Homo sapiens: one gene and its partner. The protein of the gene in region 2 interacts with the protein of the main gene of each other region in a pairwise test. Each region holds a gene or a part of one and is shown on either strand. Other genes may lie near its edges.

Region 1 (7,035 bases), on a different chromosome or scaffold from region 2:
CGGCATATTAATAACTCTGAGAAGGCCTGCAGTTAAAAAAAAGAAAGTTTTTAAAGAAATGGGATCTCGCTATGTTCACCAGGCTGAACTTGAACTCCTGTGCTTAAGCAATCCTCTTGCCTTAGCTTCCCCAGTAGCTAGGACTACAGGCCCATGCCACTATGCCCAGCTAAGAAACCTACTTGTAACTTTGTTTGATTCAGTGTTTCCCAAATGTATATACCTATATCATACCTAAATCTGTTCTTAAAACAAATTCAACAGATACAATTGGAAAAATGTTTTAAAGTGCCAAATTATCTATTAATTTAATTATTTAAATAATTTAGGAACACAAATCTCTGATAAGAATTGTGATTTTCATGCCTTAAAAAAGCTGTATGAAATAAAAATATTCCTTGGCAAAAACTGCACTAGTAAAATAGTATGGCACAACTCAAAAGAGCCAATGTTGAGAAACTGAAATTAAAAATATGTTCTTTTCCTTAAGCATTTGTTTCTCATCCTCTTCCCAAACTCTTCCATTTAAAGATGAATTGGAACCTTTAAATTTTCTAGCTTTAAATTTTCTAGTTGCAACCCAAATGTTATATAAACACAATTTGGTTCCCTCCTCCCCTGGGTCAGTGAATCGCATAAGAATAAATGAACAACGAGGAAGAAATGATGTTAACAATTTTAAAGGGAGGGATCAGATGGGAGAAAAAGAAAGGGACAGAAATGTTAAACTCTAGTGTTGAAGGAAATAAAAGTACGTTTCATGCAACTATCTTTCAAAACCACCCAAAAGTAAAAGAGAGAGAATGATGCCAAAATCAACAGTTAGCCTGCAGACAGCCTAAACTTTGGGAGGCAGTATAACTTAGCAACAGCTAGATTCAACGACAGAATGAAATCAGCAAAGGCAGCAGTAATTAGTCATTTGTTCCGAAGTATTAGTTTCTAGATTATTAAGGCTCAGGTGTCTGTTGAAAATGAGTAACAGCTGTGCAGAAATTGTGTTCTACCTGCGAGGGAGAGAAGGGTAGGCTTTTGACAGGGGAACGCTTGGGAGTTGAACTGCTGACGTCAGCAAATATGAAGGAGCTACAGTCTCCAGTGGCTAAGGGGCTGGCCTGGCCCCGTTTTTTTCGAAGGATGACCAGTGGAATTGTGCTGTGCCTTGCAGGAGGTAAGACCTTGGGTGGGTCAAGTGAACTCTCACTCAACATACGTTTGTTCACCCTTGGGCTAGGTTCTCCTGCAGGTTTAGTCCCATTGCCCTCTCTTTGCTGAAGCTGTAGGGCTTTGCCTGTGTGATGTTGGCTAGGTGAAAAATCTGCTTCTTCAAAGAATTCAAAACTGCTGAGATCACACCATGATGAAGAATCCTGAAACAATGTGGGAGGCACAGAACTTTGAGATAGTGTGTGCCATCATCACCTGAAACAGCACTGAGAGAGAGATGCTCAACGCAAAGCAAACACTAGGCCCGTTGGTTTGGCTTCTTGAGCAACAGCTTCAAGATGAGCAGTTGCTCTATTATACTGCAGTAGAGCAGGGTCTAGTGGGCTGCCTCAAGGCTGGCCCTCTGATGTGCTGCAGGGACCTCCCGACACTCTACATCTGCATGCAATGGAAAGCAAAATGAAGACCTTTTCTAGATGGCATATTACGGCAATGGTCATCTCCTAACCAATGAGTGTGCAATAAATGATTTTTAATCAACTGGGAAAGGAACCAAGTGTTCGCTGAGGAGGTGCTGAATACAAATTTGTTTCACGAAAGATGATTCATCTCAGTGAAGCAATGGGACCAGTAATCAATAATCACCATTTTGTGGAAAGAGCCAGGTATGACCAAGGAGCTGATTATTACTTCAAATACACTAAAAGATTGCTTTCAGCTCTGAGTAAGCCAAATCATTAATGTGCTGTTCAAAAGCAAGACAAAATTCTAGAGAAGCACCATGAAGTAAGCAAAGAAAAAAAAAAGTTAAAAGTAACTCAAACACCATTCCGTTCCCATAATCCAAGCTCTGCTTTATAAGTCATCAATCTGACTATTTTTAAAAATATGACTTTTGAAGGAAAAGTGTGAAAATGTGAAAAAAAACTCTTCCTTCAAAAGTCCTATTTTGTAAGTATTTATAAATACTTTTGTCTCTCTCGGTAGGCTATGAAATCAGATCTTTGAAAAAACATATTCATGAAGATGAAAATCATACTTCTACCTTTACATTAATATATGCTAATAACAGCTTGGCTATAGAAAATGGCAATGATTTAAGAAATGGGTTTTCTAATTTATCTTCCAGAATCGTTAACTTCCCTTCACAATTCTACTTACAGAATCTATAAATTGGAGTGTTTCTGCAAATTCTAAGAGGTTCTTAACATTATCCAGAATGGTGCCCTGGTGGACGATCATGCACCTTGCTGGCGAGGCGCTTTCTTCAGGTAGGGAGCCAGGATCCGCTGGCAGAGATGGAGTGGAGTGGTGTTCTCCCAAACAGGAAACAGGTGCACTGTCTCCATGAGGTCTGGTGTGGTCGGCAATGGTGGTGCTGTGCCACCCGGGGTAGCTGCATGTGTGGTTCTGTGTCTAAGGAAGGGGGAAGGGTGTAGAAATAAAGAGAGGACAGAAGAAAGGGAGAAGGAACTTAGCAATGAAGTTGCACAAGGTATCAGATGCTGTTGGAGGAAAGATAAGAGTAGTTGCATCATCCCAAACTTACGCCTATGAAACAGTTGTCAAGATGTTTCCTTTTATCAATGCAAGACCCTGTTTTTAATAGTGCTAGAGGTTGTACCTATATGATTACCTTGTTATCATTTTGTAAAAATGTCAAATCATAGGTCTATATTTCGAAGTATAATTATCATATTGTCTTAAAATTCCACTTTAATATAATTTGCCAAAGGTCCATAAATGCTTGCTGTGAGTGAAGAACTGAAGAACTGTCCTATTTGCATTCTAACCACAAAAAAGCTAGAGGACTCAGGAGTTAGAGTTGCTTTGATCTACACATATTCTTGTTGCTTCTATCCCTTTCTAATGCTACAGATTGCACTGATGCAGTGAAGCACTGCCAAATCAACGTGGTTAGGAAAGCAGAAGAGCAAATTAACAGAAGTCTCCTTACAGTATGACCACACAACAGGAGAAATTGCAAAACATTAACTAAAGTTAAAAAGTGGTCGAACTAGCATGTGCACATAAACATCTTATTATTTAACAAAAAATAAATTTACCCCTAGGAATACCTACTGGGCATCACTTCTCTTTTATTGTCTTTGTTGGTTAACTATGTATGTTGCAAAGCACAAGGAGCCATCCCAGTTGGCTGCCCAGTCGCTAAAGATGTCAGAATTCAGTAATGGCCCACATAACTTTCACACATGCAAATAAAAGAGAGCAGCTAATGTTATTTATGAAGAGGTTTTATATATAACCTTTTACATGTATATACTGAACATGCATCAAATCATGTCTGAAATTATAAAATATGAAAATATAGGTTAACAAAATAATAGAAAAAAACCAAAATGGTACCATATAGATACATAGCTCTGTAGAAAATGCAGATTTTCATTCATTTTATCTTTGCTAGTCTTTAAACTGATTATAGTCCTTCTGAAGAAAAAAATTGATGATAACAATCATAAGTGGATATTGCATTTTTATTGCAATTACAAAAAGACTGCTTCCAATTTAATCAGCATATAATCTGATACCAACTACATTTTACTACAAGCAACTTCTTGTGTTGAGACATTCTGAATGGATATATGGAGCCTTGCTAAGTGTAATATTTAGAAGAGAAGAGCGCTTAGGTAAACTGAGGCAAAGCTGCTATCCCCTCATTCAAGCACATGATGACAGTCTTACTGGTAGCACCTGCTGTCCTTTTAGCTCATTCTCGGTTGACATTAGGAGCAATTCTAATTCCTTTATTCGCTTTTCCTTCTCAGGGTCTTCATCATTATAGTGTCTCTGAAATTACAAAGTAAGGGAAATAAAGACAAAGGTCTGATTGGAAGCTGCAAATACAATGGGTGTAGCCAATATGGTCATGAGGTGCCGCACAGCCCAAAGAGCCTCACTGTGACAACACCACCAACCAAATTTGGCTCCTGCAGAAATCTTTGTGAATGTTATTTCAGACTTAAGGGAGTGATGTGAAATCTCAGGCTAGAGTGGATGCTGACTGATGAGTTATTTCACCTTGCAACATCAAAGAATCAGAAAATTCCAGAGCAAACTCATTCTAGAAGACAAGATTAATAGATTGCTGGCCAAGACTCTGCTCTCCTCTCCATGTTCCCTTTCCTTTTTACTTTAGTTGCTCAGGTAAAAATATGTGTTTAGATGAAAGAAATAAGCATTTCTTAAAAGTGGTGCTTTGAACAGTGAATGATCAATGATCTTACCTGAATGGCTGCGGCAGCTGGCTGAGGGACATTGACTATATTTACATGTAACGCTACAGGGTATGGAACATGACTGGAGACCTAGATGCAAAAGACAAAACAAAGGCCACGTCATTCAGGGCTACATATGCTTCAGGGGACTTGGCTTCCTGAGGTTTCGTTCTGGGACTGAGAGAAAAAAAACACTTTACTGATAAAATACACTAAACAAATTTTTAAAACCTTTTAATGTGAAATTTAGCCAGGCCTTTAAAATGGCTAAACAGCTAAAGGAACATGGTGAAAAATCCTTGGGAGGTGTTGATGAGCACTTTAAATTTTGGGAAGTGTTCCTTAATTAGAGAAAAACACAATGAAAAAAACAATAAAAAATATATTATAAAATACATTAATGAATGTTTCAAAATTGTTTCTATGGGAAAAATTGATGGCACCAGCTGTTTGTAAATAAAAATATTTTTCTTGGAATAATTTTGAGTTTTAATAAAAAGCACAGGAATTCTTATGATAATTTATTCATCTGAGACCTTTCTGTAAAGTTTGTAGTCAAATCCATGGACAGAGAAGAATAAAAACTATTTATGAACATGTTTTGCATATAATTTGCATATGAGCTCTCTATTCTTGGGTAAGTTTTATCATTTAATATTGTTATTCTTAAGATTAAAGTTTCTCGATTTTTTTCCTCTTTCTTCTTCTTTTTCCACCTATTATGGATTATCACTTTCCCTAAATATAAATATCTAGAAATAAGGAAGGGATCACACTGATCCAACGGAGACTAAAAGGAGACATCAGAAAATGAATGTCACAAAGTTCTGCTCCTGACTCAGAGTAAGAAGGTAAACACTTACTGAGTGAATAAATTAAGACATGTCTGCCTGATCACTGCCAGAATGAAACATACCATAACCACTGAATTTCAGTGTCAAACTCTCTCCTCTTTAAACATAATACTACCTTCCCTTTTCGTTTTGGAAGAGAAAAACATTACATCTACAAATGCGACTCCATTCCCCTATTCTTCAATAGTACCTTAAGTAAATTTACATTCAAAGGTTGCCTTCAAATTAGATTTGAAGCAGCAATTTAGAATCGGACAGCTCGTTTTCTAGTCAGCACTATCTCTATGAGCTGTGTCACCCTGGGCAAAGCGCTTACCATCCTCGTTTCTGGAGACATAAACCAGGGGTAACACACCATACCTACACCCTATCTACTTCAAAGGGCATAGGTGAAGACTGGCCATGATCATGCTCAGGAAAGTTCTCTGAAAAGTATACAACTGCAAAGTATGATTATTACCTGGAGCTAAACTAACCGTCTCTCTCATTAAACTAGATTCACAGGAATGGCTTACATTTTGTGCTTCAGAAATGTGGTAATAGGAATAGTCGTTGTTAACAGTGGGCTGGCCAGTGGCAGGGAGTTGAGCTGTAGGCGGAGCCTGAGCAAAACCCATCAAATGACTGTTCTTCTGGAAGCTTGTGGCCACTGCTGGCTGGCTGGCTTTTGAAGACTCCTGCAGATAACCTTCCTGTTCGACCTTCCGACGCATTGTAGAATTCCAGTGGTTCTTGATAGCATTATCAGTTCTGCACAGAAATATATCACACAAATTTCACAAACAAAAATTTCAATTCAGATTAAAGTGAATTGACAGAAAACTGTTTCTAACAGAGACCTTTCCCTTGGGCCTATTAGTTGTTTTCTCTTTTTAATTGTTTCCTTCTTCTCCACCCTCTGAGATCAGGCTTTCTCTATTGCCTAGTTAGATTTCTCTTAGTTACACAATCTGGAATGCATGTCGTTTTCTAGAAATATCAGTATCTTTTAACCATTCCATTTCCTTGGTAAAGGAGTATTTTCAATACGATAACGCTTCATGTTTATTCTGACCGGTCGCGGTACAAGACTCCAACACAATGTAAAGTTCCAGCTGCCTTGGGGAAATTACTCCTTTGAATGTGGCACAGCAGGGCCTACACACCACGAGAGGGACATGGTGAAGTCTGGTGGATGATAAGATGCTGCTGATGAAGAATACTTCACTCTTTATCTCTCAAAGCACTAGTGAGAACTTCTGAGACCAAAAAACCTCCTACTCTTTGAAAGCCACCCCAATTGTTTTCTGAATCAGACAGAGACGAGAGTGGAAAATGGGATCCCAAAGGGAAAGATCCTAACCCCCAGTATATTTTCAAAAGGCAACGCATTTTTACTAAAGTCTTTCCATTCTCAGGAAAACAGTTTCTCAATTCAAAAAAACCGTTTAAGTCTCCCTTTTTCTATTTCAATGGGGGTGGGGGAATGTATGCTAAAGAAAGAGGAAGTTCAATAGCCCTGTTAATTTTGAGAAGAATCAGCAGTGTATCCTCTCAGGCCATATGGGAGGAAAGGCCTTTTTTTACCAACCTCTTAAAATTTCTAAGTTTATACTGAACCACAAGGGTGCAAATGCTTTGGAGCATCACTAGAGAATACTATATAAACTTTCTCCTGGATTATGAAGCTCAAGAATAAAACTATTTTTAATATTTTTGATCTACATCATTTTAATGCAAGATTTATCATTAAAAGTATTGCTTTCCAAAGGAACAAAATCTGTTATATACTACTTAAG
Region 2 (7,650 bases):
TAGAGGATGGCAAGGAATGCCTAAAAGATGCAGTGGCTCAAAGTAGGTGGACTAACATGACTTTATATACTGCTCGACAGCCCCAAAGTCACTTGAACCACGTAAAAATAGTTGATACACGATTATTACATACACAAACACACCCCTGTATCCCTCCATCATAAAACAGCCCAAGTCAATAGGGAAGAAAATAAATGGGAACCTGCTTGTAGCTGCTAGAACAAGCATCCTTAAGAGTTTATTCAACCTCTTACAGTGGCTCTAATGGTTCTTTTCCTCTGTGAGCTAAATACAATTTTCTGGCAAGAACTCAAGATGCTCTCATTTCTACCTTACACGATAGATGGCCTTTTTCACCCCATATCAATTGCTTTTCCTGCTATGCCTGTATCTTTTTCTTTCCAATCCCAAAGCTTTTTCCTATACAGCATAAGAATCATGGAGTATCTAAAACATGGAACACAGCTTTTTCCATACTTTTACTGTCAAATATGGAAGGAGAGCCAAAAAGAGGTAATAAAAAAGGTGTGTCATTATCAGTTATAAGGGAAATATAAATTAAAACCACAACTAGATACTATATGCCCACCAGAATGGTTAAACAGAAAATACCAAGTGCCGACCAGGAAGCAGAGTAACTGGAAATCATACACTACTCAGAATGTACAGTGGAACAATCTCTGGAAAACTACTTGGCAGTCTCTGCTAAAGCTGGCTACCCTAAGTCCCAGCAACTCCATACCTTGGTAATATACCAAAAAGAAATAAAGGCATACAGCCAGCAAGACACAAAATGTGCCCTATTCATAATAACCCAAGAGTGAAAGCTACCAACGTTCATCAACAGACAAATGGGATATATTCATGCAATGGAATGTTATAAAAATAAGTCACCTCCAATTATATGCTACAATATGGAGTAATCTTGATATTGAAAGTGAGAAAGAATATATTCTATATGACTTTATTTATATAAACTTTGAACACAGGCAAAACTATCCTATGAAGTCAAAACAGTGCTATACTTGGACATCAAGAACAACTGGAAGGAGACAGAGTGGGTTTTCGGGATGTTGATAATGTTCTATTTCCTGACTGGGATGCTGGTTAGTTGAGTGTTCACTTTATGAGACTGAGCTAACACTTAAGTACACTATTCTCTGCTATACTTCAATAAAACTAAGAAGATAGGAAAGACAGGATTTAAGCTAAAGTATCATCAATCATTTCTCCAATGATTCCCTCCCACTTCTCTATAATTAATCCCTATGCATTTACTCATCTGGGTTTATCCAGTACAACAAATTCCTTTCTACATATTCCAACTGTGCTTTGTACGGCTATTTAAGAAAAGTGACTATTTTTTAAAGTTGTTATATAAGTGACAAAGAAAAACTGAAAGTTTAAACATTCTTTATACCTATGTAAATACTTTATCACAACCCCGTAGGACATTTCTGCATACAATAATTAGGATCAAAACTATGTCTATTTTAACATAATGGAATAATCACTAGAAACAAGAACACAGATGTGTATCTCAAGCTTACATTCTAATACCTTGAATATAACTACAAAATGTATTTCTGAATCAGCTTTGTTTCCTTCTGAGTTCAATAATTCAAAACATTCACAATAAAAAAATTTTTTTACGTGTAGTACAGAAAGCACAAACATACTCTGATTAACAAAGTAACAACCACATTATTCCAGTAAATTAACCCAGAGTTGTAGGAAAAAGGGTGTACTTACTGTGTAACTGGAAGAATAACCTGAAGGGTAAAATTCAGGGGCATTCACAGACAGCTTAGACATTAATACAGGAGCTACAACCACCTGGGGCTTAGCCATTGCTGACTCCGAGTTCTGCTGTGGGATTTTATCCTGTGAACTAGGTGGAGCTCTCAGGGGCCTCGTTTGCTCTGCAAAAGAAAAAAAAACGGGGCGTCAGATGCATTCTTTCCTTTGTACAGCAACTTGCTATATACTGAAAAACCATCTGAAAAGCGTCTGTTTTTAAGAGTTAAACAGGAACCATCATGAAATTTATGGTTATCGCCGGAATGTGTACAGACAGCCTACAAAAAGGAACAATAGACTTGCTGTGACTCCGTTATGGGCATACCTGCCTCTCAAATGAGTGCTTGCGAGCTTTTTTCCTCTCTGTCGTTTTAAAGGGGTCGGTGGAAAAGAGGTGGTTACTCGCTAGGGTCTCGCTTTAGAGGGCTGCTGAGGGGAGGCGATTTTTACTTCCTCCCGGGACCCCGAACTCCGAGACCGCGCACCCGGCCCCTCCCCCCAGCCAGGCGCACAAAGGATTCCAGCAGACACCTTCCAAACCCGGTTCCGGGCCCGTCCCTACCCGGTCACGCGGCCCTCTCGGGGAATGCTTTCGGGGAACCGGGGGTGGGGACCGCAGACAGCGCGTCGGGCCTCGGCACGCGTGGAGGGCCGTGGGGAAGCGTTCGCCAAGGAGGACTGGGGCCCTTAGAGCTGCTCCGTACCTGGGAGCGCCCCGGGCCGGGAAGGCCGCTGGGGGCTGGCGGGGACCTCGCACTGGGCCCCTGGCGGCGGGGTCGTCCTGGGCTGGCGCAGCGGCGGTGGCTGCAGGAAGCCCGGGGCTTTGGGTTGCGGCGGCTGGTGCCGCGCCCGCTCAGCAGGCCCCGCTCCGTTCGGGAAACCGCCGCCCTCAGGCCCGCCCCCTCCGCGGCCCAGGCCCCGGCTCCGGCCCCGACCAGCACCTGGGGCCCGATCGAAACCGTCCGACATGCTCCTCCTCCTCCGCCTCCTCCTCCAGGGGCCGCTGCCGCTGCGCTCGCGATAGGACGCGGGGGGAAGGCGCCGCGGGTCGGCTATAGCCGCCGCGCCTCACTCGGGCCTCATGGAGGAGGAGGGCGGCGGGCCCCGGCTCGGCTGCTCGGTGCTTCTGGCGGAGCGGACGGCAGCCCGAGCACCCGCCGCTCCAGAGCGCCCGCCCCGCTCGGCTACCCTCGGCTTTCCAGTTCTCCCCCAAAACCCGGCTCCCCGCCTTCGGCGCGGCAGGGGCGCAGGCGGGTCACAGCGGCCCCCTGCGGCCCGGAGGCCCGGGACGCGCCCGCGAGGATCCTCCAGTTCGCGGCTGGCCGGCCGCCGGGCCCAGCAGGCCGCCCGCCGAGTGGCGTCTTGGCCACCTGCCGGCCCGCAGCCAGGCTCGGGCAGGGGCATCTCGGTTCCGGGGCCAGGCTGGGGGGGATGAGGGATGAGGGGTGAGGGGGACGCTTACCACAGGCAGGCCCGACCTACTCGGTAGTTCTCAGGAGAGACGTGCGAGACCGACAGTTGACGCCCGGGAAATAAAAACACGGGGGGAGGGGGCGTGGACCCTGCGCCAGGGTTCGCTGGCGCACAGGTGTGTTCAATGACTCGGCTCCGGCCGAGACCCGCGGACTGCTGAGGAGTGGTCCCTGGGAGACTGTCACCTGCTCCGTTAGCATCGGGGGAAGGGAGTAGAAACGGAATCAAAATATGTGTCCCCTCTTTAATTCACCCTAGGTGTTTACCACAGTAGGTCACACCTACGTTTAACAAGCTTCGTTCTCTTCCCGTTAACCTTCCCCTCCAGAAATTTCAAGAAAATGTGCTACCTTTCAGTGTAACTCTGCCCTCTTTTTCATCTTGCATCAGTGCTGTCCAATGAAAATATAATGCGAGCCACAAATGCAAGCCACTTATGTAATTTTACATTTTGGAGAAGCCACATTAAATGAGTGAAAAGAAACAGGTGTGGCCAGGCGCAGTGGCTCACGCCTGTAATCCCAGCACTTTGGGAGGCCGAGGGGGGCGGATCACCTGAGGTCGGGAGTTCGAGACCAGCCAGACCAACATGGAGAAACCCCGTCTCTACTAAAAATACAAAGTTAGCCGGGCGTGGTGGCACATGCCTGTAATCCTAGCTATTCTGGAGGCTGAGGCAGGAGAATCGCTTGAACGCAGGAGGCAGAGGTTGCAGTGAGCCGAGATCGTACCGTTGCACTCCAGCCTGGGCAACAAGAGCCAAACTCTGTCTCAAAAAACAAAACAAAACAAAACAAAAACCAGGTGAAATTAATTTAAATTTATTTAATCCATTATGTTCAAAATGGTTTTTTAACATGCGATTTAAAATATTAAATATTTTCTCTGTTTTTTAGATACTAGTTGAAATCCAGTGTATATTTTACACTTATGGCACATCTTAGTCGGGATTGGCACATTTCAAGGGCTCAAGAGCCACATGTGGCTAGTGGCTACTGCGTTGCACAGCACAATTCTAGATTTTATTAATATGTAAATTGTTGTTTTTGTCAGGCCTGACAGTATTAATGCCAAATAAAGGATAGATGAATATAAGTAACGACAAGGAAGGAAAAATTGATTTCTTTACTGTTGGATTGATCCATCTCCATAAATTCTGATTTTAGCCTTTTGTTTTAAGCAGGGTTTCATGTTTTTCTATCTTTTCATCTTAAGAATCATTTCAATTAGGGACACAAACTCTTGTTAACCGTTTTCTCTTCTCATTAATAAAGAAAACAATGTCTTCCCCTAAACGAATGAGAAAATGGCTTCACCGAGGGCAATCATGAATAAATGGTTCATGCTATTGATGTTAGGCAAAATAATGAAGTCAGGGAAGGAAGCCAGCAGTACGTGTGGCTCTTCGGTGTACGGAAAGTTTAGGATTCAGTCTGCCAGAGCTTAGTTGGGATTCCACTCTTGACTATTGCTGTCTGTGTGATTTTGAGTAAGTAAGGGGTTTAGCTTCTCTGAGCCTCACTTTCCTCATCTGTAAAATAATAACTGTGTGGTAACACTCAGCATATATTGCAGAGACAAGATTACAATTTAAAAATTACAATTTTAATATTTTCAAATTCATTATTGTATGTGGTCACCAGTCACTTCTTGCCTGGACTTTTTTATCATACAGGAAAGACCCATAAACTATGCTAAAAAACTAACAATGAGTTATGTTCCACTGAAGTAGATGCCCCAACTCTGCCCCAAGCTTTTGTTTGCACTCACCACCTTTTCATTTCCCCTTAAAACTTTTATGATGAACAGCACCTTTTCTAACAACTGGGACTTTCCCATGTGAAGATAAGGCCATTCTGCATCCATGGTGATGTCACGACATCTTCACACCCTCTTGTTAGGAAAATTAGGTAAGATATCCTTTGCCTTCTCTGTATTTGTTACTGTATAACTTTTGCCCTATTCTTATAATGTGTGGATGGTGGACTTGGAGATAACACGAATGGATTTTGCATCATGATAATAAAAATATCTAATATTTATTATGCGTCAGTCACCTTTTAAGAGCTTTTATTTTATCATTTTATTTTATCCTCATATCCTGTGAGATAGACATTCCAATATTTTCACTTTACATAAAAGGTGCCAAGATACCGCAAGGGCTCAGATCCATCTTGGGACTGTTTTAGAGCTAACTGGCAGGTATTGCAAAATGCATAGACAGAAACACATGAACGTGTGAACACCATGTGGAACTCCCTAAAGAGAATCATCAAAGTGCTCCTCATCCACGTGTATGCCTTTTTTATTAATTTATGGTGAAAGGAGAGTAGAACTAAATTTGGACAAATTGGAAAATATGTTGTAATATGGAAAAGGACCTGCTGTGAACTATGAAAAAAATGTTTCCTTAAACTGTACTTGAAAGGCATTCTCCAGTAAGACTTCCCAAGCTGCCTAATCTTAGATTCTCTCCCTTGTGATAAGTATACCCTGGGAAAACTGTCTTGGTACTTAGCATGCCAGATTGTTATCGTTAGTATTTGGTTTATTTAAATGTCTCCTTCCCTAAACTAGCCCTCTGAAGACAGAGGATGCCTTTTAATCCTTTAGGTCCAACCCAGTACTTAGTCCATAATAAGCTTTTAACAGAAATAGGACTCACCTGCAATGGTCCTGCCTTTCCTTAGGTCACCAGTCTAGTGATGGTAAAAAAAAAAAAAAAAAAAAAAAGACTGTTTTTTTAGAACTTATTGACCTCAGGATCATCATTAGACCTTATGGGAGTAGACAGTACAGCCTTCAAGGCCAGCTAACAGGAGAAAATTTTCATAAATATGCAAGAGGAAATATTTGCAAACCACATGGTATAGTTTGTATATTTGACCCTCCAAGCCTCCTGTTGAAACTTGATCCTGAATGTTGGAGGTGGGGCCTAATGGAAGGCGTTTGGGTCATGGTGGCAGATTCCTCATGAATGGCATGGTGCCATTCTCACAGTAACGAATGAGTTATGGTTTTACTAGTTCCCAAGGAGTTTCCCCAAGAGCTGGTTGTTGAAAAGAGCCTGGCACACTCCCCCTGTCTCATGCTTCCTCTCTTGCCATGTAATCTCTGCACACTGTCTCCCCTTCACTTTCTGCCATGCATAGAAGCAGGCTGAAGCCCTCACCAGAAGCAGATGTTGGTGCCATGCTTCTAGTACAGCCTGCAGAATAGTGAGCCAAATGAAACCCTTTTCTTTATAAATTACCCAGCCTCAGCTATTCCTTTATAGCAACAAAAATGGATGAAGGCACCACATATTTGACAAAAGACTTGTATCTAGAATATATAAAGTACTCTCAGAACTCAACTGTATTGAGAGTACTATAGCCAGGTGCGATCCCAGCACTATGGGAGGCTGAGGCGGACAGATTACCTGAGGTCAGGAGTTCGAGACCAACCTGGACAACATGTGAAACCCCGTCTCTACTAAAAATACAAAAATTAGCAGGCATGGTGATGCGTGCTTGTAATCCCAGCTACTTGGGAGGCTGAGGCAGGGGAATCGCTTGAACCCGGGAGGCAGAGGTTGCAGTGAGCCGAGATTGCACCACTGCACTCCAGCCTGGGTTGAGCGTGACTCCGTCTGAAAAAAACCCAAACAAACAAAACACCTAACTCAACTGTAAAAGGACAGTTCAGTTAGAAAAGGGCCAAACATAAATGAAAGAACACTTCACTGAAGGGAATATACAGATAGCATAAGCCTATGAAAAATGTTCAACATAATTAGCCAGTAGGAAAATTTTTTTAAAACCACTGAGATTTCACTACCTACTTATTCGAATAGCTTAAATAAACAATAGTGACAATGCAAATTCAAGGATGTAGAGAAACTAGGAACTGTGTTGCTCATACATTGCTGGTGAGAATGTAAAATGCTATAGTCACTTTAGAAAACAGTTTCTTTAAAAAACTCTACATATTAAGTACTGTACTACCTAGCAATTGCACTGCTGGACATTTCTCACAGAGAATTAAGATTTATATTCACATAAAATCCTGTACCCAAATATTTAGAGTGGCATCATTAATAAGAGCCCCAAATTAGAAAGAACCCAAATATCCTTTGATGAATAGTTAAACTGTGGTACATTCATACCACAGAATGCTACTCAGCAAAAAAAAGGAACAACTGCTCATATAAGAATGTTGATGGATCTCAAGGGAATTATGCTGAACACAAAATTTCAATCTCAAGAGCAATTGTATGATTCAATTTATGACAAAATTATGAAGATGGAGAGCAGATTTGTGGTTGCCAGGGGTTAAGGAGGGAGTGGAATTTAGAGGCAAGTAGATGGGGTTATTAAAAAAGTAGGTAGCATGAGA

What was found. Proteins that work in one complex are often made in the same cells at the same time.
Region 1: the proteins of PAIP1 (region 2) and MYB interact in binary tests that used the Homo sapiens proteins (3 or more experiments, as listed by UniProt).

Annotation. Positions count from the first base shown.
Region 1 is NC_000006.12:135,191,296-135,198,330, reverse strand, and holds part of MYB (transcriptional activator Myb), read right to left. Parts: intron 6,008-7,035; coding exon 5,773-6,007; intron 4,494-5,772; coding exon 4,413-4,493; intron 3,976-4,412; coding exon 3,871-3,975; intron 3,372-3,870; exon of another isoform or gene 3,250-3,371; intron 2,584-3,249; coding exon 2,329-2,583; intron 1,606-2,328; exon of another isoform or gene 1,423-1,605; intron 1,371-1,422; coding exon 1,008-1,370; intron 1-1,007. UniProt on the Homo sapiens protein: Transcriptional activator; DNA-binding protein that specifically recognize the sequence 5'-YAAC[GT]G-3'. Plays an important role in the control of proliferation and differentiation of hematopoietic progenitor cells.
Region 2 is NC_000005.10:43,554,078-43,561,727, forward strand, and holds the start of PAIP1 (polyadenylate-binding protein-interacting protein 1), read right to left. Parts: upstream 3,001-7,650; 5' UTR 2,770-3,000; coding exon 2,505-2,769; intron 1,923-2,504; coding exon 1,753-1,922; intron 1-1,752. UniProt on the Homo sapiens protein: Acts as a coactivator in the regulation of translation initiation of poly(A)-containing mRNAs. Its stimulatory activity on translation is mediated via its action on PABPC1. Competes with PAIP2 for binding to PABPC1.